7 linked regions of the Homo sapiens genome follow. The protein of the gene in region 2 purifies or fractionates together with the protein of the main gene of each other region. This does not show direct contact. Each region holds a gene or a part of one and is shown on either strand. Other genes may lie near its edges.

Region 1 (3,500 bases), on a different chromosome or scaffold from region 2:
ACAATAGAGACTAAAACTAAAGTAAGAATCCACATACATCTCTCTTTGGATTTTCTATTCATTATTCAGAAAACTTTTCTGCTATGTAGGGCTGTCATCATAATAAAAATTTGCTGTTTTTTGAGGTACTGTTAAGAATCTGATCACATTTCCAAGCATCCTCCTCCAAGGTGTTTGTTACAGTACCTGGATGAACAAATTTACTGGTCCCACTATACTCGAATGTAAAGGTTACTTGAGCAAACAGGGAAGCTGAGCTAAAAAGATAAAACTCTAAGAATAACAACACTTGAAAGGACATTAAGCATGTATGCTTAAGAATGGGTAAGTTAGACGAATTATACTCATCTTTTCTACTTCCTATTTGAAACTTGTTGCTAAAAAGGATGTATTTTGCAAGAAATAAAATGTAGATATTAAATGTTTAAATTTCTATAAGAATGTCTTTCTTTAACCCTAAAATAATTTTTTTTAAAAGAAAGAGCCCAAACTTATTTTTCTGAATGGGAATATGGAAGTGAAAATACTTGCACTCTCTGAAGAATGCTTATATAAAATGAAGGTATAGTCTACAATCATAATGGTCCCATATGTTGTCCTATTAGGGTACTGAAAACCAGCCCCTTGCTCTTCTCAGCTGTGCGACAGAAGAAGATCAAAGCAATGGAGTCCAAGACAGCTGCCCTAGGGATAGGTAAAGCTCCCAGTGCTGCCGTCACTTTCTAGAGGAGAGTAGCCATATGGCACAGATTTGCCACAAACCCAACTACCAGCACCTAAATGATGAGAAGCTGACTCCCTTTGCTGTTTCACACACTGAAACGCTTTCACAAAATAGTCTGAACTTTAAGCCCTAGTATCAGAGAAGTACCTTTGGAAAATGCTGTAGTAAACTTAAAATGTGATCTTTAACATCCCATGCCCAATTTCTTTTTCTGAAATATGACAGTTTATTTTGTAGATCTCCACATTGTGAGTGGAATATTCTATTTCCTATGATATAAATGATATACTTTTCAAATGCCAAAAAACCCCAACCTCTGAACAAAACCAGGCCACAATTAACTTATGAATTCCATATATAAGACAGAAAAATAAAATCAACTTCATTCATTTTTATACAGAATCATTTCATTTATGGTTCAGTAATACAAAAATACAAACATCCATCAGTTCTTTTATTGCTTGTGAAATATTTTATCTCAAGTAACCTTGATTGACGTTCTGTGAAAGGTCTGTCTTCTCTAATAACCTAATCTCAAACCCTGACATGAGTTTGGAAGTGAACAGCTAAATGATTTTTCCTACTCTCCATTTGTACACAGAACAAGAACTACCACATAATTTGGCACAAACTGACGTAACTGACAGTCACTTCCAACTGAAGCATGGGATCAGAAGAGCAAAGCTTTGGGAGGCCAAAGCAAGGTATACTGGTACTTGGAAGGTTTCAAGATTCTTCACCAGGCTATGTACCCATATTATATCTGGCTGAAAGCGGAGCATAACCCTAACATATAATTTTAAGAAGGAGAAAAGAAAAATAGCTTTTTAGGAATTTCACTTTAAAAGTCTCTTTACTTTGAAATTACCAATTAGGTACATAATATGGGGGTGGGGTACAGTAGGGGGTAAATGGTTCAGAATAATGTAAAAGTATCCTAGATCTTCTATAGAAAATACTATGGAGAAATAACAGAGGTTTCGGATACACTGGCAAAGCAAGTCTTTCCATGAAATTTATATAAAGTGATTTAAACAAGCAAATAAGGTGAAAACATGAGGCACCTGAAATATTTGTTAGATTAGTAATACTCTACACCTGCTGTAGAGTATTGCCACCTCTCAAACCCCAAATTACTGCTTTGATGTGACAGTCAACGGCCCCTTGAAATTTTATCTTTTCAAATAATATACTTGCTATGTAATATTTCTATTATTTTCAAAGCAGTAGTTGGAACTATTCAGCATTTGCCACAAAACAAACCAAGGTAGTAATCCATTACTCCAGCTTTTGTGTTCCAAAAGTATATCTGAAAATCAGCCATTAGAAATTTAGAACACATTTTTCTGGAGAAAAAAACTACACAAATAGCCAAAAACCACTTCCAGAGATTTGCAAGCTACTCATAGGGAGTCTCAGAATCCTATTTAACCTATAATATACCAGGAACGTCAGTAAGCCACCATATATAATTCTCTCTCGTGCTCGCGCCTTAGCAGTACTTCCCTAGCTACAGACAGGATCCAGGATTAAACATTGGGAGGAAAAAGCTATCTATGAAAAAAAAAATCTTTCATGAATTCACGTAAAGTTTATTTGTGACTCCTAAATCAATGCCCATGGTGCTTCTGTGGTCATTTGTGACATGTGGAGAATGTCAAAAAATTTGAGTCCCGTAACATACATTTCTAAATGAGGTGAAGCAGGATAATGCTCTGCCTTCTTGTTTTAGCTCTCATACTGTAAACAAGCATACTTTTTGTGCTCTATTTAGTGCCAGTATTTTGCATTTCTGTGCTGCTTTTTGGTAATTTCACTGTTTAAAATGGTCCCCAAACACTGCTGAAATGTTATCTAGTGTTCCAAGAAAGCTGTGATGTGCCAATATGTGTTTCAGATACGCTTTGTTTAGGCATGAGTTATAGTGCTGTTGGCTGTGAGTTCAATGTTGATGAATTAACTGTATTAAATAAGGTGTCTTTAAACAAAAACACATATAAAACAAGGTTATGTACTGGTCAGACGACAAACTATGTGACCAGAGGCCTGCAGGAACCTAACCATGTATATCCCGAGGGATAAGAATTCTTGCTAATTTAGTGTTTCATAGTGACTTTAAAGAACATAACTGTGAATAAGGAGAACAACTATAATTGAGAGATACATAAAGTCTGTCCTCTCTCATAGATTTGACTCCCCTCTCAACCCAGTCCTGGAAAAATCAGTTTTGTCTCAATTAGCAACTCATCTCAACATTTCTTTACCCTACATAAATCTGTGCTGTTTGACTTGTCCTTTGAACTGGTTATAACATTTGCCTGGCTCCCTTATATCAGATGAGTAAAATCCTTCAATACATGTTTATTGTATATCTATGCTAGAGTCAATGTATCTTTTTCTGGAAAATTTCTTTTAACCATTTTGGAGGTCCCCTTGAGACATCCTATAGATTTATCAACCAAAGGCAGGCAAACTTCATCATCGAAGAAATGGTGTACCTTATGCTTAAGCCTGCATACCTCTTTTCTTGGCTCTAAAAGGTGAATCCAAAGCAGTAAGAGAACTCTGCTGACTCTGACTCTGGTCTTTTGCTCTCTACTAATCTGGGGAATTGGTTTTGCAATCTGACCATCTGATGATCCCTGTAAATGGATTAATGGTTTATAGAGGTCTATTCTCTATTGGGTGAGAAAAAATGGAGAATCTAGTTTGTTAATCTATTTTGGACTCAAATCAATTAATAATTTGTCCTCAGAAAAGAACAGCTCTTTGGTAT
Region 2 (3,500 bases):
CCTTTCACAAAACCATTCTGTGTCTGAATCAAGTTTGCATTAAATGATGGAACTCTCCTGCCATCCACTCATAATTCCCTGCAGGTGTTGGGCCAGGCCTGGCGGGGAGGGTCCCCAGTGCCAAGCAGCCCAGGGAGTTGTGAAGAGGACACGGGCAAGCCCTCTCCAGAGCCCGTGCTTAGCGGGTGAGCAGGACCTCGGCCAGACATGAAGGTCTCCCAAGCCCTTCCTGTCCCTGGCCACTCCCCACCCCCAGGAGGCGCAGCACCAACAGCTACTCACTGGCAAGGATGACCATGTCCATGCCCCAGAAGATGCTCATGATCCAGCCCACCATGACGATGGCAGTGAGGATTTGGATGAGGGCTGCTGCAATGTTCAGCCAGAAGACGCAGCACACATGCCTGTCCGGGAGGTCGGTGCGGGCCCCGCACAGCACAGTGAAGGCCGAGACGAATGTCCCTGTGAGAGGCCAGAGGGGACAGCCTTCTGAGGGCACTGGGAGACAAAGGGGTCTGTGTGCTCATTGCTGGCCTGGGGCCCAGCTGTCCACCCTCCAAGAACTCAGAGAAGAACCACCGATGTCTGGCACCCTGTCCTCTGAGTGGCACCCCTGCCCAGACCCTGGCCCACCTCTCATCTCCATACTGCAGAGTTCAGTGGGCCACCTGGAGGAGGTATTGCACGGGGCTGCCAGGGGCCCCATACAGTCTTGGAACCTCTGGGGGAGACAAGGAAGTCACAGGACAAGCAGTCCCTTCTGGGAAGGAGCAATCAGGAAGCCACTTGCAAGGACAACAGGCAGTTGGAAAAGGCAACTTTATGTGGCAAAGATTCCAAGAGCCAAAGAGTTCTGAGGTGGAAGCTGATGTGTCTGAGTTAACACAGAAGCAACCTCAGAGGTAAATTCAGGAGAGGGGAAGGGCCAGGAAATGACCACCCAGCACACATGCTGCTCGCTAAGGGACAGGAGCCAAGAGCCTACAGTGTAGTAGTAGTACACTGTGCAGTGTAGAGGGCGCAGACTAGGACAGGTGTCCCAGAGCCCCTCCCTGATGGGGTTCCCCTAGACACCCTGACCTGTAAGGGGAGGGACAGGGAGCCTAAGCTCTATTGAGCATCCACAAGGTGCCAAGCAACGTGGTGGGTGCGGTCACATTCTTCACCTTGTCTAAGACTCAGCCCCTATGGGTAACATCACTACCTTTACCGAGTTAGGCCCCTTTCCTACATGGGCTCTGAGCCCTCCTGACAACAACCGTGCAGAGAATTAGCATTCTCTATATCTGTCATAGTTCCCTACAGCGTCAGTAACAAGTTACCCAAACCTCATGGTTAAAAGCCACACAAATTTATTCTTTTATAGTTCTGGAGGTTAGAAGAGTCTGCAATGGGTCCTCAGGGATGAGTCCTTCTGGAGGCTCCAGGGGAAAATCTACTTCCTTGCCTTTTCCAGCTTCTAGAGGCCACCTACATTCCTTGGCTTGTGGCCCCTTCCTCCATCATCACCGCCAGCAGCGTAGCACCTTCTCCCTGACCTCTGCTTCTGTCTTTATATCTTCTCGCTGCCTCCCTGTAGTAAGGACCCTTGTGATAGCATTCAGGACCCACTTGGGTAATCCAGGATGCTCTCCCCATCCATTTAATTTAATCACATCTGCAAAGTGCATTTTACTACATCAAGTAGCATATTCACAGGTTTGGGGATATGGATGTGGACATCTTTAGGGGCCACTGTTTGGCTTACTACACTCTTACACACACAGAGAGAGATTCAGTGTGATGGTTAATTTTAGGTGTCAACTTGATGGGATTGAGGGGTTCCTAGACGGCTGGTGGAGCACTGTTTCTGAGTGTGTCTGTGAGACTGTTTCCAGAGGGGACTGATGTGTGAGCCAGTGGACCGAGAGAGGAAGACTCGCTCTCAGTGTAGGTGGGCGCCATCCAATTGGTCGGGGGCCTAGCAGGAACAAACAGGCAGAGGAAGGGGAATGTCCTCTTTGCTTCCTTTCCTCCTTCCAGGGTGAGACGCTTTATCTTCTCCTGCCTTTACACGTCACACTGCAGGTTCTTCAGCTTTTGAACTTTGGAACTTACACCAGCGGCCCCCTGGGGACCTCTCAGGACTAACTGGGGGCTGCACTGTCAGCTTCCCTGGTTCTGAGATTTCAGACTTGGACTGTGCCATGCTGCCTGCTCGAGCCAGCTACTAGCTTCTCCAGCTCTGCAGCTCGCAGTCAACCTATCGTGGGACTTCTCCACCTCTGTGATCACATGAGCCAACTTCCCCTCATAAGTCCCCTTCCAGGGCTCGGCGCAGTGGCTCATGCCTGTAATCCCAGCACTTTGGGAGGCCGAGGCGGGCAGATCGCCTGAGGTTAGGAATTTGGGACCAGCCTGGCCAACATGGTGAAATCCTGTCTCTACTAAAAAATACAAAAATTAGCAGGATGTGGTGGCGGGCGCCTGTAATCCCAGCTTCTCAGGAGGCTGAGGCAGGAAAATCGCTTGAACCCAAGAGGCAGAGGTTGCAGTGAGCCAAGATCGTGCCATTGCACTCCAGCCTGGGCAACAAGAGTGAAACTCCATCTCAAAAGAAAAAAAAAATCTCCTTCCATATATCCTACTTGTTCTGTCTCTCTAGAGAACCCTGACTAATAACTCTCAGGAACTAAGCATCTTGTCCAAGGTCACAATGACAGGTGAGCATTGAACCCACCAGAGTCAGATGCCAATGCCACGCCCCTCTGCACTGCCTCCCAGGTGTAGATGGCCTGTTAAAAGCGGGCCCAGACCAGAAAGCAGGGCATTTGGGAAATTGACCAAAAGACTGGTGACCATTGTCACATTCCTCACGTTCGATTCTCTCAGTTCCTGCTCTTTGAGGCTGCCTTGTTTTTTATTTTGCCTCCCACTCTGAACTGAGTCCATGTGCTGATTTCTGAAACTGACCCTGCCTTATTTTCCTCCTCTTCATCTTAACCACCGCCACCAGTGTGAGGTCCCAGGATGCAACTCATTGGTTTCTGGCCCTTCCCTGCCCAACTCGCTGGCTCCTACAGTTTCCAGGTGTGGCCTTTGCTCTCACCCACACCTTTGTGCTTCAGATCCAAGGCTGAAGCCTGAGTCCACATGCTGATTTCTGAAACTGACCCTGCCTCGTTTTCCTCCTCCTCATCGTAACCACTGCCACCGATGTGAGGTCTCAGGCGGCATCTCATTCACCTTCATCCCTCCAGCCCCTTGCACAGTGCCTTGTACACAGTAGGTGGCCTGTGGCATTCAAAGAAGTACACCCAACATCAAGTGTCTCCTCCTACCACCTGCCTCATCGCCTGTGGCATTTGTTAAAAATGCGGGGTCCCACCTGAGATCTACGGAATTTCTAAAGGGTGACCTGGCATCTGCTTTTCCCAACAAGCTTCCCCGCTGCCCTCCAAGGAATAGGAATGATAAGGCTCACTAAAGTGTGAAAACCACGGATTCAAGATCAGACAACT
Region 3 (3,500 bases), on a different chromosome or scaffold from region 2:
TATATCTTAGATTTAGAATCAGCGTTTAATACAAAAAAGTTTTTACAAAAGTGAAAAATCACAATTGGAAAAAGTACCTTACCTCAGGGTAAAGATTGAATCTTTTTAATGTATTAATGACAAGGGGGTATTCAGTCAGTTTATCATTCATAATCATCCATACTCCATTCAAAAATGAGGGTGCTTCCACAATAGTCTTGAAATAGGAATAATATAGTCCCTGAAATAAAGATATGCTCAATTAAAATAACAAAAGGTACATAATTATGATGCCACTTCTAAGTAAATACACTGTTTTTGAAAAACAAAGCAATTAAGTAATAGCTATTAATACAATGAATTTCACAGGTTTCTGATCACTGATAAATCCTAAAGTTGTGAAAAAACTATGTATTTTCACATAAATGCATCTTAATTGAAATAACTGAATGCAAAATAGCTTCAAAAAGTTTCAGCATTTAAAAAATAATACGACTCAGCATACTTCAACTTAGAAAATCCTATTACTTATACTAATATCACTCTTAGAAAATGCTATCTTATGAATAGAGTGAGTGGTTTATTATGGAACTAAAATTTATCATGAACCAAGAAATCTCAAGCCAAAAATACTCCTCTAACTGCTTATTTTAATCCCCAAAATGACACTATCAGTCATTTTTCCTCCGGATTTACATGCAAAAATGCAAATGTGTTGAGAAGGCTACACACTGATGTATTATTACATATGAATTTCACTCGGGTGCCACCTAATTTTACAGATTATTTTCCCTCCTATCAAGTCAGCATAAGGTAAGAACCCTGTGCGACTGGGGATAAGGGTGGGGAGTGGTCCTCTTTTGAAGAAAAGAGACAGTTTTTAGCTTGGCACACTACTTTGGAAAGATAGCAAGGGTGAAATAATATGTGAGACAAAAAAAAAACAAGAAAATACTAGAAGCCTAACGGAGAGTCTAAGTGGCAGTATGAGGGAAGACAGAAACACAAGATAAATCTACGTCTTGTATTTGCATCTTCAGTTTTCCCTGGAGCTGCCCTGGTAGCCAGTACCAGTAGCTGCCAAAGTTTAAACTGGGTTTAAGACTCACAAATACAAAAGAGATATGCCTATCCAGAAACTTATTGAAAAAGAAAAAAATGGTCTTGATACTCTGATGTATCGACTCTGATACCACTATTTTTAAAATTATGTTTCCTTGTGTACTGATTTGGATAGTGTCCCCTAAAATTTCATGTCCACCAGACCCTGTGGAGTGATCTTATTTGGAAATGGGATTCTTGCAGACGTGATCAAGTTAAGATGAGGTCATATTGGATTAAGGTGGACTCTAAACCCAACACAACTGATGTACCTACATAAAGAGGAATATTTGGCCTCAAAGCTACAGGCACACAGGGGAAAAGGCCATGTGAAGAGGGGTCAGAGACTGGGGTGAGGCATCAGCATGCCAAGGAATTCCAAGGATGGCCAGCAACCACCAGAGGCTGAGAAGAGACAAGGAAGGACTCTCCCCTCCAGCCTTCAGAGACAAGATGCCCGTCAACACCTTAATGTCCCACTGCTAATCTCTGGAACTGTGAGAGAATATATTTCTGCTGTTTTAAGCCACCTAGCTTGTTGCACTTCTTTATGACAGCCCTAGGAAACTATACCTTCCTTCTTTTGTAGGTTTGATTTTGGAAACATATGTTTAATTATAAAACAAAAATTTAAAAATCCCTAAATATCAAAATAAAAATGAAAGAAAGGAATTAACTATTTATCAACTTGGAAGAAGATTTCAAGTAACATTAAGATACTGTAATTTTACTGTATATCCCTAGTGGACTATATCCTAAGGTTAAAATGGAGCCCAGGAACTTGGCAGGACTGGTTTCACAAGTTACAGGTCACAAAGACCCTGCTGATAACACAGGATGCGGTGAAGAAGCCAGCCAAAACCTGCCAAAACCAAGATGGCAACTAAAGTGATTTCTGGTCATCCTTAGTGCTCATTATAATACATTAGCATACTAAAGGAAACTCCCACCAGCAGCATGACAGTTTACATATGCCATAGCAACCTCTGGAAGTTACCCTGTATGGTCTGAAAGAGGGAGGAATCCTCAGTTCCAGGAATTCCCCTCCCTGTTCCCAAAATACTCATGAATAATCCACCTCTTGTTTATCATATGATGAAGAGATAACCTTAAAAACAATCAACCAGCAGCCCTCACAGCTGCTCTGCCTGTGGAGCAGCCACCCTTTCATCCCTTTACTTTCTTAAGGTAAACTTCTTTTCACTTTACTCTGTTGGAGCATTCTTGAATTCCTTCCTGCCCAAAGCCAAGAACCCACATGGCCTCCTGGGCTGAGCCCCAATTCTGGGGGTTGCCCTGTGAAGAAGCGAACTGCAAGAAAATCTTAAACTCTTTTCAGTAATCACATTTTTAATTATACCTTTGGTACTTTTATTCCTAACAAATCAATAATTTGAAACCAAGATTCTCAAACTAAAAGATTAATATCAAATAAGTAAAAAAAAATCTAATCTTGTTTCCATTTAAAAAATTAATATAAATTCATGATTTCTTTTCTCTTTAAAAAAATTTTTGTAGCCTAATTCTCTTCAGTAAAAAGGCCAAAATACAATGGCCAATCTAGTAGCAATGAGCATCTGCCACTGACAGAAATGGTGGCTCATGGGAAAACTGGCTGATGCCAGGTCTGAGAAGAAAATGTCTTGTAGTACCTGAAAGTAAGGAAGCCATGGATACTAGTGAGGTCACATCAAGGGCAAACAAGGAGAGCTGCAAGGGCTTTAATAGCTAAAGACAGGAAAGTTTACAAAATATGTTAAAATCCATCATATCATAATGATACTCCAAAAGAAGGTACTCCATTGATCACTACTAGAAGATGCTAGGGAAGCTACTCATTTTTCTGAATATTAGTAAATAAAAAGAAAGAATAAAGCATCTTTCTGACTTTCCTCTATGATATACCTCAGGGAGAAATCAAAAGGTATTGTGTGAAAGTTCTTAATAGAAGAATTATAGCTAATAAGTGCAAAGAAAAAAATGATAGATTAGGTACCACAGTTTGAGAAGGATAATGAAATAACTAACCTAGGCTGATGGCTAGGCTATAGGAGGAATCAGCATCACAATACCTAAAGCCAGTGATCACTCTTAACATCACAGAAAGTGAGACAACCAGATATGATGTGCCTCTTGGCCTGATACAATAGAAGTATACAGCACCACCTAGGAAGTATTCCTGCCAGAAAATAAGTCAAATCTTCTGATCCATAAATGTTCAGGAAACTTGGGATACAGGAACATAATTGAAGAATGAGGATTATTGTGGGTAATTCTATAGGACAAATCAGCTGGATTTCTCAACAAACAAATAGCAGGAAAACAAAACAAAAACAGGTAAAGAAATTCACATATTAAAAGACTTAAGATACACATCAACTAAATGCAATGTGTAGGCACTGTTTGGATCCTATTCAAAC
Region 4 (3,269 bases), on a different chromosome or scaffold from region 2:
GATTGGTGGGTATTTGTTGTGATTGATTGGTGGGTATTTGTTGTGATTGGTGGGTATTTGTTGTGATTGATTGGTGGGTATTTGTTGTGATTGGTGGGTTTCATGTGCTGGTCTGTGTACTTGTTCCTTCAGTGTTGATTTTGGGTTCTAACCTTACAACCTTTTTCTCTTTCATTTTTAGTTTCTTTTTGCACAGTATATGCCTGAATGGCTCTGGGTGTGGGGAGCAAATATTCTCAACCGTTCACTACGTAAGGAAGCCTTATCCTGCACAGCCTGAGTCTGGATGGCCACTTGAGAAGTTTTGCCAACTCCTGGGAACCTCGATATTCTGACATTTGGAAAAACACATTTAATTTATCTCCTGTGTTTCATTGCTGATTATTCAGCATACTGTTGATTCGTCATTTGCAAAACACACATAATACCGTCAGAGTGCTGTGAAAAACCTTAAGGGTGTGTGGATGGCACAGGATCAATAATGCCTGAGGCTGATTGACGACATCTACATTTCAGTGCTTTTTCCCTAAGCTGTTTGAAAGTTACGCTTTTCTGTTGTTCTAGAGCCACAGCAGTCTAATATTGAAATATAATATGATTTGTCAGGTCTTATAATTTCAGATGTTGTTTTTTAAGGGAAATTGACCATTTCACTAGAGGAGTTGTGCTGGTTTTTAAATGTGCATCAAGAAAGACTACTGAAAAGTATTATTTTGTAACTAAGATTGCTGGTACTATTAGGAAAAATCTGTGTGTATTGTATAGCTCTAGCTGTTTGACTATCTGTAATGAAAATGCTGCACTTCAACTGGTATTTCATTAGAGAACCGTGTGTGTGCGTGTGTGTGGTGCCTTTGAGCAACTTTATTTATGGTTACCATATTTTTAAAAAGATTTTTTGTCAGGGTGACTTAACATGGACTCTTATAGGGTATTAAAACAATCTAGATTATTCCTTTTCATCCTAAATAAGCCTACCAAATTTCATGCTGTTGGTTTGCCATGAATGATATTACTTCCTACATTATATTTGTGTTTTTTCAAATCTGCTATGGAATGAACTTATTCCTAGATTTGGATATGTAAGAGAAACCTGCAGTCATCTTTTGATTTATAAGGCAATTCTTGTGGATAAATAGTGATTTCTCAGCCTCTGACCCATTTTATAACTGAAATTTAGCCCTTTAGAGCTTGTTATATCTGGTTTTCCTACGTTTTTCTATGTAATATTATTCCATTCCAGTAGCATTATTGATAGAAATAGTAAGTATTTATGGAATAGTAAAATATGGACAAATTACGTGTGTGACATATCTGTCAATATAAGTTAGAAGCTTATTCTTGGTTTGTGTAATGAATTTATGTATTGTAGTGAATACCTTTACTGGTGTGAAGATAATTATGCACAAACCCTCACAATACGCGTTAACATTGAAACCTGTGAAATGTCCTTAGTTTGGGTCATATAAAGCCAACCATTTTTGAGGACCATGTACCTAGTGCTTTGAAAACTCTAAGTCACTATATGAATATGACAATATGTGCACATTTAAAATTCAGAGCTCGGCATTGTGATACTGATGCAGAAGCTAGTAGATTGGTTAAAAGTCTGGACTTCTGTGGCATTTTTTTCGTGACGTGATAATCTATCATAAGCAGACCTAAGCACAGTTTTATGAACACAATTTTGCCCATGACATTGCCTACAGGATTTCCAGATGTGACTTGCACTCAGAAGATCAGTGGTCAACTTCAGAAGCTCTTCCACGCTTAGATCATGTCTTCAGAACTTAGATGTGAAAATCTACACACTGGGAGATGCTGTGAGCCCCAAGGTTTTGATGGAGTTTGCTTGGAATCCTCTTGACTTCATGCCACATTGACGTGAACTTTGATGTATAATAAGCAGCAGCAACTTCATGTGAAAATATGGTCAGGTAGTTATATGTAAGGTTACGTGGTCCAGTAATGTCTTAGATTGATAAATTAGGTATGGAATCCATCAGTGTTACGTGATGAGAATAGGTGAACACACCTTGTCAGTGATGATGTAAACTTCTCTCCTTGGCAGGACATGGGCAAACATGCTGATTGGTGCAAATGTGGTGCCGAGCTGTCCATAGCTGCAGTGAAAGATGAAGAGCAAGACCTTCTCTAGGTTTTCTAGCTTTCATTAAATGTATTTTTTTCCCCAGAGCTAATTTGAAAGTTGATTGGACCACTGTGGATGGGGTGTCATTAAGAATGTGGGAAATAGGGGCCGAGTGCGGTGGCTCACACCTGTAATCCCAGCAGTTTGGAAGGCCAGGGCAGGTGGATCGCTTGATCCCAGGAGGTCGAGACCAGCCTGGGGAACACATCCTGTCTCTACAAAAAATACAAAAATTAGCCAGGCAGGGTGGTGCATGCCTGTAGTCCCAGCTACTTGGGAGGCTGAGGCAGGAGAATTTTTTGAGCCCAGGATGCAGAGGTTGAAGTGAGCCAAGATCGTGCCACTGCACTCCAGCCTTGAGACAGAGCGAGACCCTGTCTCAAAAAAAAAAAAAGAACGTGGGAAATATGAACCTTTGAAAGTTAATCTGTGAATTGAAAGTTTAACAATAAAAGTAGTTGTTTGTTTCCTTTGGAAGAGTTTTGTTCCAGATGTTTGTAATTTGGTTGTTTGTAATTTGGAATGAGAGAATTTTTTTTTCTTAGGAGTGATTGCAAGAAATTAACATGAACAACAGTGGTCATAACTGATTAAAAGCTGACACGTCAGTAACAAAATTGTTTATAACTATGTGCCTAGTCTTTGGAAGCTACTGGGTTGACTTCTGGATCTCTTTCTCTTGGTAGGTTGAGTAAGGTGAGGATTGATTTGAGCATGGAATTTGGCTGTGTGGATGGAGATCATTGGTGATTTTTTTCCATGAGCCATTTCAGTCTTCAGGCTAGAATTGTAATGGATTCAAGAAAGAGTGGGAAGAAGAAAAAAAGGGAAGAGAGCAGATAGAGACAGCTCCTAGGAGACTTTCCTGTGTTTTCCTATCCTCAATTACTTAAAATCTAATCACATTTGGGAACCAGAGGGTTAGATGGTTATGTCCTCAAAACCTATTCCAGTCAATTTATGTCTCAGTCTCAGTATTGGCTTATGTGTTATTTATCTTTTTAAAAATTCATATATGTTTAATGAGTATAAAGCCAAGCACAGGACAGTCGTGAATTCAGTAGAAATATTCTCTGTTATTCCTGGCCGCGTGCAGTGGCTCACGCCTGTAATACCA
Region 5 (4,269 bases), on a different chromosome or scaffold from region 2:
TTATTCTTAAAGCTGTTCTTAATCTATAGCAAAGAAACACAATGTCAGTAAGAAAATCCTCTAGAAAGTTTTTGGTTTCAGGTCAAATAAGTTCTCGAATCTGACCAATGGTCATATCTTTGACAGCAGCAACATGTATAGTAATTAACTTCCATGGTACAGTCCTGTCCTCTAAGGGGTATAGGTTAGCTGAGGGGACTACTAAGCAAAACATTAAAATATATGATGAGAACCACTACAAGTTCAAAGTGCTGTGGGAATATGTATTTATCTGAGTGGCAATGCAGTATTGCTGTATTCTGCACCCTGCTAATTTTTCTCCACTTTAAACTGAGTTCAAATTCGATGCCTATGGAATTTGTAAGCTACAAAACCTTACTTTGGGAGGCTGTGCTACCACTTTATGAGAACTCTCATTAATGAGCCTTTGCTACTCACCGAATGTTATTTGAACAACCCCAAGTTTACCTGTTTTCTAATTCAGTATTAAGCTTTTTTTTTTTGAGATGGAGTCTCGCTCTGCTGCCCAGGCTGCAGTGCAGTGGCGCGATCTCGGCTCACTGCAAGCTCCATCTCCCGGGTTCATGCCATTCTCCTGCCTCAGCCTCCCGAGCAGCTGGGACTACAGGCACCTACCACCACGCCCGGCTAATTTTTTGTTTTTTTTTGTATTTTTAGTAGAGACAGTTTCACCGTGTTAGCCAGGGTGGTCTCGATCCCCTGACCTCGTGATCCACCTGCCTCGGCCTCCCAAAGTGCTGGGATTACAGGCGTGAGCCAACGCGCCCGGCCCAATATTAAACTTCTGATGATTTGCATTAAGTATATCCAATCTTTTCAAAATGCAAGGCATAAGAAGGTTATCAATTTTGTGCTTTGAATATTTTCCTATCAGCAAAGTTATAAATTGTACTATCTCCGTTTTAATAGGTATTTATACACAGAAAAACGACAGGGAATATAAGTAAGTAATTTTCTTCTGGTGACTATCAGTCTTTACAATTTTCTAAATTTTCTTTTAAATTAGAAGTGGACCAGAATTTTTACAAGAAGGCCATTATTGTCAGCTACAGGTTTAAATACAGAGGTCTGACTCTTCTACTTTAATAAATCCATTTTTATCTCTCAGAGGATAAATGTAACATGCTAAGCTTCCCTAATTCAGGCTTACCTCATGTCTGAAAACAAATCCTACGATGGCAGCGACCAGTTCGACCAAAAAAACGAGAGTCAGAAACATTGCATACTGCAGGATAAGAAAGAAAGTCCAAGTCAGCATAAATAAGATATAGCACAACTGCAAAGGGAGTCAAAGAAAAAATAATGGTCGTCTTCTCAATTAGTTCATCATGTTTTCATTGAAAAGGGCAGGGAAAATAACAACATGTCTATTTTGAAAGTGGAAACTGGCAGCTGAACTGTTACTTGATAAGTTTCCATAAGGAACAGGAAAAATTGTAAAGGGCCATGGCCAGTTCCAACAAAGGAATTCTATAACATACAAAACTTTTCTAAAACCAAGAATCAATTCTAATGAAAACAAGGACTCACCAGTTTTAGCATCCATGCAGAAGCTCGGCAGGTAGCAAAACAACCAAAGGTGCCCAAAAGAATAATGACGGTACCAGTAGCAATGAGCACGAAGGGGACATTGGTGGCCTTCTCATTTAAAAGAGAAAAGTAATTCTCCAGGCTCACCTTGCCCCAAATGCCAACTGCAAGAAGGATAACGCCAGTGATCTATGTGGGAATTCAGAGAATACAAACAGTTACGCACTGTGTACAGCAGCATCTTCAAATCACAACGCATGAGGTATTTAAGGCACAATAGGTGTAATATGCTGGGATACGGCAGACAAGGGGGAAGAGTAGAAGGGGTTAGGGGGGGATCTGCACACAAGAGCAGGCTGTGGACCAGGTATCTTATCAAAATTCTTAAAATTCATCTTTTTGTGTGTAAACACAAGCCCATGGCATATTTGCCCTAGGGATCAAAACTTCCTTAACTATCTTACTCCAACCTTAGGAAGAAAACCTTGAAGGGGAAAAAAAAAACGTGATTTTATGAGTTCCAGAAACTTCCCCCGTCCTCTCCAGGTAGGGATGGGCACAGGGTACAAAGGACTGGTACACAAAAGCAAGCCCAAGGATAGACTGGCGGGAGTGGAGGCATACCATACTTACCTGCGAAACACTCCTCTCTTACGAAGCAGTGAAAAGAAAGACACTATTATGCAAGTGAGCCCTCAAAGGGGCCGGGCAAGCCTTGCTTGCCTTTGCAAAGGTCCAGGGTCACCGTCTGCGTGCTCTGGGGGCTTAAGGCCCCACCTCGCCTCCCGTATCGAACTCGAACGCTGGTACGTCTGGGTCCCAGCTCAGCCTCTCGGCTGCCTTCGTCCCGCACTCCGACCCCAGCGCCGGCGAGATGCCTGAGCTCTTTGTTCGGGGCCCAGTCACTGGTCGCCGGCGTCGGGGTCCCAGGCGCGATGGCCGCCCAAACCCCACACCGTTCCCGACCTGAGCTCCCGCCGCTCAGGGTCACACCCCCCACAACTAAAAGCCCGGGATCCCCTGCCGGCCCCAGGCGCCTTCGTCTCTCACCCAGAAAATAAAAGTGTAGATTAGCAGAACGCTCTTGAAACAAGTAATGACTGGTTTAGTCTGCAGTCTCCGAGACGGGGACGCCATGACTAGCCCGAGACCCTGCACCACCGCACCGGGCGATTGGAACACAGAGAGCGAGACGCGGAGTCCCCGAGTCTCCCCGGAAACTGCCGAAAACTTACGAGCGTCCACAACTGAGAAGGGCCGGAAACACTGTACAATTTTGTAGAGGGTAAAGTATGGGAGGCTGTCCGGAAAGTGGCAACAATTTCAGAGCGCCCCCTGCCGAAGGTTACCGAAAACTATATACAAAGGTTCTAGTGTCGGAAATTTCATAGGTCTTCAAGTGGAGCTTTCTTCATTGTTTTTTTTCTATCCTAAGGAATCTTTCCCGCCCCCCACCCCTCCCCTCTCCTTATAACTTCACCATATTGTTTCTATCACCAGCAGAGCCCGCAGCGCTCTGAGATTGGGCCTCCCTGGCCCCTGGTGCCCTAGAGAGAAGGAAAAGAATGAAGAGGTTAAAAGCGACCTAAGAAAATACATGGGAAAATACCCACAAGAAATATATTTGCAAAAAGAAAGCGGATTGCAAAGCAATACATACAGTCACGTGTGCTTAGACAAAAACTGAAAGGAACAGTGAAATTTACCTCTGGTGGAATTAGGCTGATTTTTTTCTCACTTGTGTGCTTTTCAATTTGTGAACATTGTTTTATGGGTTAGGAAGGGGAGATGTGAATGGAGGAAAATAATCACCACTTGTTGAAAGAATTTCTAAGCTAGGTATTAAAGATAATAATGACTTTAGAATTTACCTGCAGGACTTTGCAAAACCCCAGTATTCCTCTCCTTTTTTATCCCCTAAGTAATTGGAAAGTTGAGGGAAAGTATTTTTACATAATAGTGAAATGTAAGTTCAGCTATTCGCTGTAAACTTTTAAAAAGAGAGAGTGCAATGGAAAAATCCCTGGTGAGTGTGACCTCCTCTTAAATGTTAAAACAGAAAGGCACTGTACATTCCAGCCACCTGGTTTTTCCCATCAAAACCCAGCTGATTACAGAGAGATTAAAACCTAATGTTATATATTGTGAATATATTGGTCTATGTTGTTACAACACAGGAGGTGCGTTAAGGTCTGATTTCTCAACTAAAGCGTCAGCTCTTTGAAGGCAGAGACTGAGTGTTAAGTGAGTTTGTGTTATCTCTAGAGGAACGGGGTTAGAAGGCTGTATCAGTTCCCTATGCAATCCAACCCTTCATCATTGACACAAGCTTAATATCACAAGTGGCTATTTACTCTATTGCCATTGCAAAAAGACCTGCATTTGTGGAGGAGAGATGAATACTCAAACTTTTCTGCTTGAAACGTTGCTTTAAACATACACCTCAGGACCAGAACACAGGAAAGTTCCATTGACTTGGTCACACAGAGCTTCCCTGTGCTTCGAATATTGACCTAGGACCAGTTCCTATAACATCTTGCCAGACGTCTGAGGTGCAAGGCAGCAACTGTTGGAAAATTAATTATTGCATTGCCAGGCTTTATACTAAAATTTTTACTAAAATTTGAAAGGCCTAATACACAAATACATGGAGAGAATGGATAAACGATACATCTACATACACCTTCAAACACTTTGAGGTAAAGTCGTTAGGAAATA
Region 6 (3,500 bases), on a different chromosome or scaffold from region 2:
TCACTGCCAGAGCCATCGAGTTAGCCTCGCTGCTTCTGCTCTGCCAGGACCATTCCCACCTTTTCCTGGAGAAGGCTGCATTTCCCAGAGCGCCACTCAATCTCCAGTGCCGAGGTATACCTGCGTTTCAGTGTTTCGCTTGTTTTTATTTTGTTAAACATTGCTCTCTAGAATTCTATAGACCTATCTGAACTTATCTGTCCTATAATTTTGGCTACAGTTGACTGGTTAATTATTTAGCAAAGCCACTGTTCTTTACCTATGGGTATCACCAAGAACTCTGACAGCTAAGTACATCTTAACTTCTGTCAGACTTTTGCAGTATTTCATTCCTTCTAAGCAAAACAGTCACTCTCATTTGTTATGCCAAACATCTACCTCTACGTTTTAAAAATAAGTATTTTTCCAATAATCCAAATATTTACTTTCTGAACACTGATTTCAGTTTTTAAGATGTCAATTAATCTTAGTTCATTTATCCCAATCTTACCAGGAAGAAATATCATTCAGTAAAAGTTTTTTAAAAATAGACACTTTGGGAGGCCAAGGCGGGTGGATCCCAATGTCAAGAGATGGAGACCATCCTGGCCAACATGGTGAAACCCCGTCTCTACTAAAAATACCAAAATTTGCTGGGCATGGTGGTGCACGCCTGCAGTCCCAGCTACTTGGGAGGCTGAAGTAGGAGAATTGCTTGAACCCAGGAGGCGGAGGTTGCAGTGAGCCAAGATCGCACCACTGTACTCCAGCCTGGTGACAGAGCGAGACTCTATCTCAAAAAAAAAAAAAAAGAAACATTTTACTATTATAGCATAAACAAGTGCTTAACATTAGAAGAACTATGTTTTGACAACTGTGAATTTTCTTTTTTTTTTGAGACAGGGTCTCACTCTGTTGCCCAGGCTGCAGCCCAGTGGCACAATCTTGGCTCACTGTATTTTTTATAGAGACAGGGTTTCACTATGTTGCCTAGGCTGGTCTTGAACTCCTAGGCTCAAGCAATCCACCCGCCTTGGCCTCTCCAAGTGCTACGATTATAGGTGTGAGCTACCGTGCCCAGCCGTCAACTGTGAATATGTAATATGAGGAAAATAATACCAATCATAAATCCAAATCAATTCCTCCAGCACATACGTACATATATATATACTTTTTTTTTGGAGACACAGTCTTGCTCTGTCACCTGTTGCCCAGGCGTGAGTGCAGTGGCACGATCTCGTCTCACTGCAACCTCCACCTCCACCTCCTGGGTTCCAGCAATTCCCCTGGCTCAGCCTCCAAGTAGCTGGGATTACAGGCGCACACCTCCACGCCCAGCTAATTTTTTGTATTTTAGTAGAGACAGGGTTTCACCGTGTTGCCCATACTGGTCTCGAACTACTGAGCTCAGGCAATCCACCCGCCTCAGCCTCCCAAAGTGCTGGGATTACAGGAGTGAGCCACCGCGCCCAGCCCCTCCAGCATATTTTTACATGATATCATCTCCTACCACAGAATTGCTCTGTGATCCAGAACTTAAATTCAGAAAAAGCATAGTATAAATTGCTTTTTCTTCACCCCTAAAAGAAAAAACACAATGTTTAATTATCTTCTAAGAAAGCTTATTTTAGAAATAAGAACCAAAGATTAAAAAGTATTAATTAAAAGTAATGAGTAATCATAAATATATTTATATGTTCAGTAATATGTCTAAATATATCTTTCTTAAAATAGCATTGAGCATTTAAAAATTTGGAAAGTAATACTGGTTAACTGTTAGGAAAATATGAAACATGCATATCTCCATAGTCTTAAATAACATAAAACTTTAGTAAACTTTATTAAGGTTACACTAAAATATTAAATAAGCTTATTGAACAGAGACACACTCTTGTACCAGGCCAATTAGTAATCAGCTTTTCTGGGACTCAATCATACAACAGCAATTCTGCCTTCCTAAGTCAAACATTAAGTAAAGAACCATTTCACACAGTATATTCAAGTTTTTAAGATGTTTGAAAAAATGTTTATAGTCTCATTTAGAGGAGTAAAGAGTAGAATATTTACACATGTATAGATGGAAAACAGGTATAAACAAAGGAGTGACTTTTTCCAAGGTCATAAGGTTATAAAGCAAAGGATTACAAATGAGAATAGAATATCATTAATTTGACAGTCAATGCTATATAGGCTTTCCAGAGACTTCTTTTATGCAAGTAGTCCCCAAATTGGAGCACAAATGAGCTGCTAGGATTGAATTTCAGAGCGTAAACTAAGTTAAAGTTAAAAACTGTCAAAAGCCAAGACACTGAACTGATCAAAAACCAAAATAAGTAACTTTTCATTGTTCGTTTGGTCTATATATACTAATTAAGTAAAGCAAGTGAGAATTTTAAAAGCAAAGCAATAGTTTGTCAGAAGTAGCTAATTTTACTTTGTATCTGGTTTGTGGTTACTCCAAGTAATTTCCCGGTTTTATTATTTTTATTTTTCTTTGTGAACAAATTAATTGGCTCTAGATCATAATTTTAGAATCAGTCACCCTTTAATCATCCATTTGGTTAAGTTTGGGGCCACTGGGATAACTATGTGATATAGGTGAAGACTGGTTAAATGAAAACATATTTTAATAAAAATGTATTTGTAAGAAGAAACTGACAAATTTTCAGTTACACAAAGAATAAGACATAGGTAATATGAATAGTTAAAACCTTCGTCCCACTCGAAATCTTTTAAGGGTATTGCTAAAAATTCAGTTGACTTTTCTGGGTTTCATTCTTCCTGCCTCTGCTCAATCTCTAACAGAGGTGAAGCAAGAAGAGGTCTAACCATGGTTAAAGGGAGAGGAGAGAGGCAAAAGAGATGGATAATAAGTTGAAGTTTTAGAAGTCCAGAGTCACTGTTAAAGAAGAAAGAAATGGGTCCATGGCACTGTTACCAGTAGAAACAATATGTTCACCTATACCCGACTTCAGGCTTTCTTGTTTTACAAGCAATACCTATCCCCATGCATCTCCAACACCTGCATTACACAGGTACTGTTTCACCTGTGCTACCCTCACAGGTGCTACCCTTATTTACACCAAGCCTTCTGTTAAGTCTCCATGGTGACTAGAAGCAACCTAGATGCTTCAGATACTGAACTATCTAGTAGTGGCATTATGAAACAGAACCAAACTGATTAGGCAAGCAGTCTAAGCAAGCACAGAGTTTACAAAGCAATTCAACAACCCAACCAAGCCAAAAACACAGATTTCCTAATGCTTAGTCCAAAGTTGATTTGCTGTACTTAGATTCCTAAATAAAAATATGGCTATACAGAAACTCTCCTACCTAGGACTTCTGCAGATGAATCAAGTGGGGAACAAGCACAAAAACATAACATTGATTATTTGGTTTTATGTCAAAAGGAACAACAGAAGTTGGTAGTATTTTCAAGGACAGGAAGAAAATACAGAAGAGATCAATCTGCAGTTCTTGATAACCACTACATCCAGAGTTCAAGGCCAGTAACCACATAT
Region 7 (3,500 bases), on a different chromosome or scaffold from region 2:
GATTTAAGTGTTGCAACACCTCCTTCTTCCCCTGAAAAACCCACAAGCATTTGTAGATTTAATTTATTTTACAAAGAATTTAAACCTTCAGACAGTACCTACCACATCCAGATTAGGGTACTTTCTTCGTACTAAAACCACAAAAATACTGAAAAAAAAAGTCTTAAAAAGCTTCAGTAACAACAAAAAAAACCCCAAAGTACAATGAGTGCATAGATTACAAGAAATTGGGAAGAGTAAAAAAAAAAATTTTTTTAAGAACTTTAATAAAAAATGAAGAAAAAAAGGCCAGAAACAGTATCAACATGCTGAACACTGGAGAAATAGAGAGGGATGAGGGATCAGCAGAATTACATACTAAATCGAGGACTCTTCAAGTTCTACCCTAAAGAAAAGAAAGCTTTAATATTAGGCAAGAATAAGGGTTTTTTTAAAATGTAGTATATTGTTATGGATCATATCAAAGTACAAGAAACATAAAATTGACCCAGTCATAATATATCAGTGAAGGAAAAAATAATTTAGAAATCAATTTTTTAAAAAAAGAAAAGATCCACAAATTATAACTTAAGAGAAAACTATCAGTATCAAAAAAGGATCACATAAATCATTTTATGGATTAGAAAACTGAAGTTCAGGAAAAGTGAAGTAATTTGGCTAAGGTCATGTCACTCAGTTAAAGTGTTGCAGCCTGGATGTGAACTCCCTAGATAACTCTACAACATTTTGTTCTTCTCACTCTTTTTCTGATAGAAGTGAAAATCCAAAAGTAATTTTAAAAATTATATAAAATAGGCCGGGCACAGTGGCTCACGCTGGTAATTCCAGCACTTTGGGAGGCCAAGGCAGGTGGATCACCTGAGGCCAGGAGTTCAAGACCAGTCTGACCAACATGGTGAAACCCTGTCTCTAGTAAATACAAAAGATTAGCCAGGCATGGTGGTGCATGCCTGTAGTCCCAGCTACTTGGGAGGCTAAGGCAGGAGAATTGCTTGAAGTGTGAGGTGGAGTTTGCAGTGAGCCGAGATTGTGCCATTGCACTCCAGCCTGGGCAACAAGAAAGAAACTGTCTCAAAAAAAAAAATTATATAAAAGTATAGCTCAAAAGTAAATCTGGCTTGAACACATGATGTAGACTCAACAAAGATGCCCCAGTGAGTCTCATTTTTCTACTACCTCATCAGTCCCCCTTGGTACTCATTACTGTACATAAATTACTAGTATATGGGAAAAGCCCATTTCTTAAAGTCATACTGAAAATCATTTTGTCTGATTTTCTATTTTAAACAAAAGTTAGATTTTTTTTCACTCTTCCCTTAAAGATTTATTTTAAACTCTATGTGTACAATAGAAAATAAGGCTTCATATAGCCATTTCTTTAATGAAAAAAATATTTTTAATTATTTACTGATCGATGACTGAAATGATCAAGCTTTGGTTTCTACTAAAAGAATGTAAGTTTGATTCAGATGTTTGAAGAATGTCTTAAAATTTCCTCAAATTCATTGGCTGTTTGTGGCAGATGATTTTGTGACACTCCCTTATAAGATAATTAATTTTGCTTTCCTTTGGCCTATACGGCATACTTAATGGTATTTAATACTTATTATGTGAAGCCCTATATCTAAAGGCTTTTTAAACGTATAATAAATTCTCCATCATGTACATACTATGAGCAAATAATTCAATAATTATTTGAATCATGCCTCCTAAATAAAATATATTTAAATAAATTATAATTATCTCACCTACATGACAGTTTTTCTTTTGTGATTCTACTAGGGTCTGGGGCGGTGGGGAGGGGGAGAGAAACTATACCAATTATTTTAACAAAGATAATTTAATATAAGTAATTGTTAACTGGGTATTGGAAAAGCATGGTCACCAGATCAGCATCATAAGCATCACCTAGAAACTTCCTAGAAATGCAAATTCTCAGACTCCAACTTCACCCCTGACTTACTGAATCAGAAACTCTAGTAGTAGGCCCAGCAAGCTGTGCTTTAACAAGCCCTCCAGCGGATTCTAACGCATGCTAAAGTTTAAAAACCACTGCACTAAAATATCACCAAGACAACCACTCATAGGACTGGGCAGAAAGAAAAAGAGATGGATGGACTTACTGAAACTGAGAAGCTTCAAAAAGGCCCCCATGGAACTGAAATTCAGACTTTTGAGAACAGGTCACTGCTTGCCTGGTACTGATTTCTCTGAGTTCAGAGGAGGGAGCCTATAGACCTGGGAACCAGGTATCTGAGGAAGAAGCACCCAGTAATTGGAGCTGGCATCTCAAGAAGGCACATTGAGATTGGTTCTACAAGTGTTGGAAAACCCCCAAATTGCAATCAGCTGCTACTACTAGCAGGCACTATTGCTGTCGGAGTGAAGAATTGTTGCTAGAGTGAGACTTAACAGGATTAAGAAACCCATCCGAAGGAAACAGCAAATTCCTTCTTCCTTCTCTACCTGTGAAGTGTCACGCTGGTCCCTCTATTGGCAGAGCCTAACAGGGAGACAGAAATGCTTGCAGAATTCCAAAGAGTGGGTTTGAAGCCAAGAGACAGTAGCTTACTGTCATGGCCTTAATTATAATACAAGTGGAAGATAATAGAAATAATACTTTAGGTATGTATAATTGGGTGCATGTAGACATTTTCTGGGATACTAACTACTGGGTAGACATTTGGCCTTATTGTAAAAAAAAAAAATTTGTATTAAAACTATTTGTTTCTCCTGATGAAATTAATAAGAGGCATTTAGGGCATCTATATAATGAACAGGAAACTATGCAAGGGCCTGCGCTGAAGTCTGCTTAGCTGAGCCTAAGACAAAGATCACAGCAGTAGTGGCTGAGGATTGCTCAATAATAACAGCAAACATGCTTTGGTCATCTGAGGCTCGGTTTCTTAACGTCTTAGTGTCAAAGGAACCGTCTAAAAAGAATCTTACCAGGACAGAGCAGTCAGGCCTTGCCTCATAAAACAGGAGGGTGGCAGAAAAGGGTGTTCTGAAATCATGGTCACTCACAAGAGAAATACAAACATGATTCTTCACTTAAGCAGTCATTTTTGTGCAATTCCAGGATCAAAAAGAACATTCCCATTGTGTTAACAGGTACTTGTAGAATAATTATCAGAAGTATGCCCAGCACTTTGGAAGATGAAGAACTAAGGTTCTTAAAGACGTTTACATATTTCTCATGTTATGTTCATGTTTTGTCTTTTTTTTTTTTTTTAAAGGATGTTGAAGACTCACAGAACCACACTGGTGAGCCGGTTGGAGATGACTACAAGAAAATGGGAACACTTTTTGGTGAACTGAACAAAAACCTTATCAACATGGGCTTCACAAGGATGTATTTTGGAGAACGAATAGTGGAACCAGTAATAGTCATTTTCTTTTGGGTTATGCTGTGGTTCCTTGGCCTGCAAGCCCTTGGACTAGTTGCTGTTCTTTGCCTTGTTATTATTTATGTGCAACAGTAAAACATGGCCGAATTG

What was found.
Region 1: the proteins of STUM (region 2) and NDUFS4 purify together in Homo sapiens (affinity purification with mass spectrometry; one large-scale study listed by BioGRID and IntAct). This does not show direct contact.
Region 3: the proteins of STUM (region 2) and DPY19L1 purify together in Homo sapiens (affinity purification with mass spectrometry; one large-scale study listed by BioGRID and IntAct). This does not show direct contact.
Region 4: the proteins of STUM (region 2) and HSDL1 purify together in Homo sapiens (affinity purification with mass spectrometry; one large-scale study listed by BioGRID and IntAct). This does not show direct contact.
Region 5: the proteins of STUM (region 2) and TSPAN6 purify together in Homo sapiens (affinity purification with mass spectrometry; one large-scale study listed by BioGRID and IntAct). This does not show direct contact.
Region 6: the proteins of STUM (region 2) and TAPT1 purify together in Homo sapiens (affinity purification with mass spectrometry; one large-scale study listed by BioGRID and IntAct). This does not show direct contact.
Region 7: the proteins of STUM (region 2) and FAM241A purify together in Homo sapiens (affinity purification with mass spectrometry; one large-scale study listed by BioGRID and IntAct). This does not show direct contact.

Annotation. Positions count from the first base shown.
Region 1 is NC_000005.10:53,675,639-53,679,138, reverse strand, and holds part of NDUFS4 (NADH dehydrogenase [ubiquinone] iron-sulfur protein 4, mitochondrial isoform 1 precursor), read right to left. Parts: intron 1-3,500. UniProt on the Homo sapiens protein: Accessory subunit of the mitochondrial membrane respiratory chain NADH dehydrogenase (Complex I), that is believed not to be involved in catalysis. Complex I functions in the transfer of electrons from NADH to the respiratory chain.
Region 2 is NC_000001.11:226,593,764-226,597,263, reverse strand, and holds part of STUM (protein stum homolog), read right to left. Parts: intron 463-3,500; coding exon 283-462; intron 1-282.
Region 3 is NC_000007.14:35,013,486-35,016,985, forward strand, and holds part of DPY19L1 (protein C-mannosyl-transferase DPY19L1), read right to left. Parts: intron 221-3,500; coding exon 83-220; intron 1-82. UniProt on the Homo sapiens protein: C-mannosyltransferase that mediates the C-mannosylation tryptophan residues on target proteins.
Region 4 is NC_000016.10:84,121,641-84,124,909, reverse strand, and holds the end of HSDL1 (inactive hydroxysteroid dehydrogenase-like protein 1), read left to right. Parts: intron 1-181; coding exon 182-280; 3' UTR 281-2,769; downstream 2,770-3,269.
Region 5 is NC_000023.11:100,634,007-100,638,275, forward strand, and holds the start of TSPAN6 (tetraspanin-6), read right to left. Parts: upstream 2,801-4,269; 5' UTR 2,689-2,800; coding exon 2,602-2,688; exon of another isoform or gene 2,185-2,601; intron 1,741-2,184; coding exon 1,552-1,740; intron 1,247-1,551; coding exon 1,172-1,246; intron 24-1,171; coding exon 1-23.
Region 6 is NC_000004.12:16,219,972-16,223,471, forward strand, and holds part of TAPT1 (transmembrane anterior posterior transformation protein 1 homolog), read right to left. Parts: intron 1-3,500. UniProt on the Homo sapiens protein: Plays a role in primary cilia formation. May act as a downstream effector of HOXC8 possibly by transducing or transmitting extracellular information required for axial skeletal patterning during development. May be involved in cartilage and bone development.
Region 7 is NC_000004.12:112,183,454-112,186,953, forward strand, and holds part of FAM241A (uncharacterized protein FAM241A), read left to right. Parts: intron 1-3,239; coding exon 3,240-3,485; 3' UTR 3,486-3,500.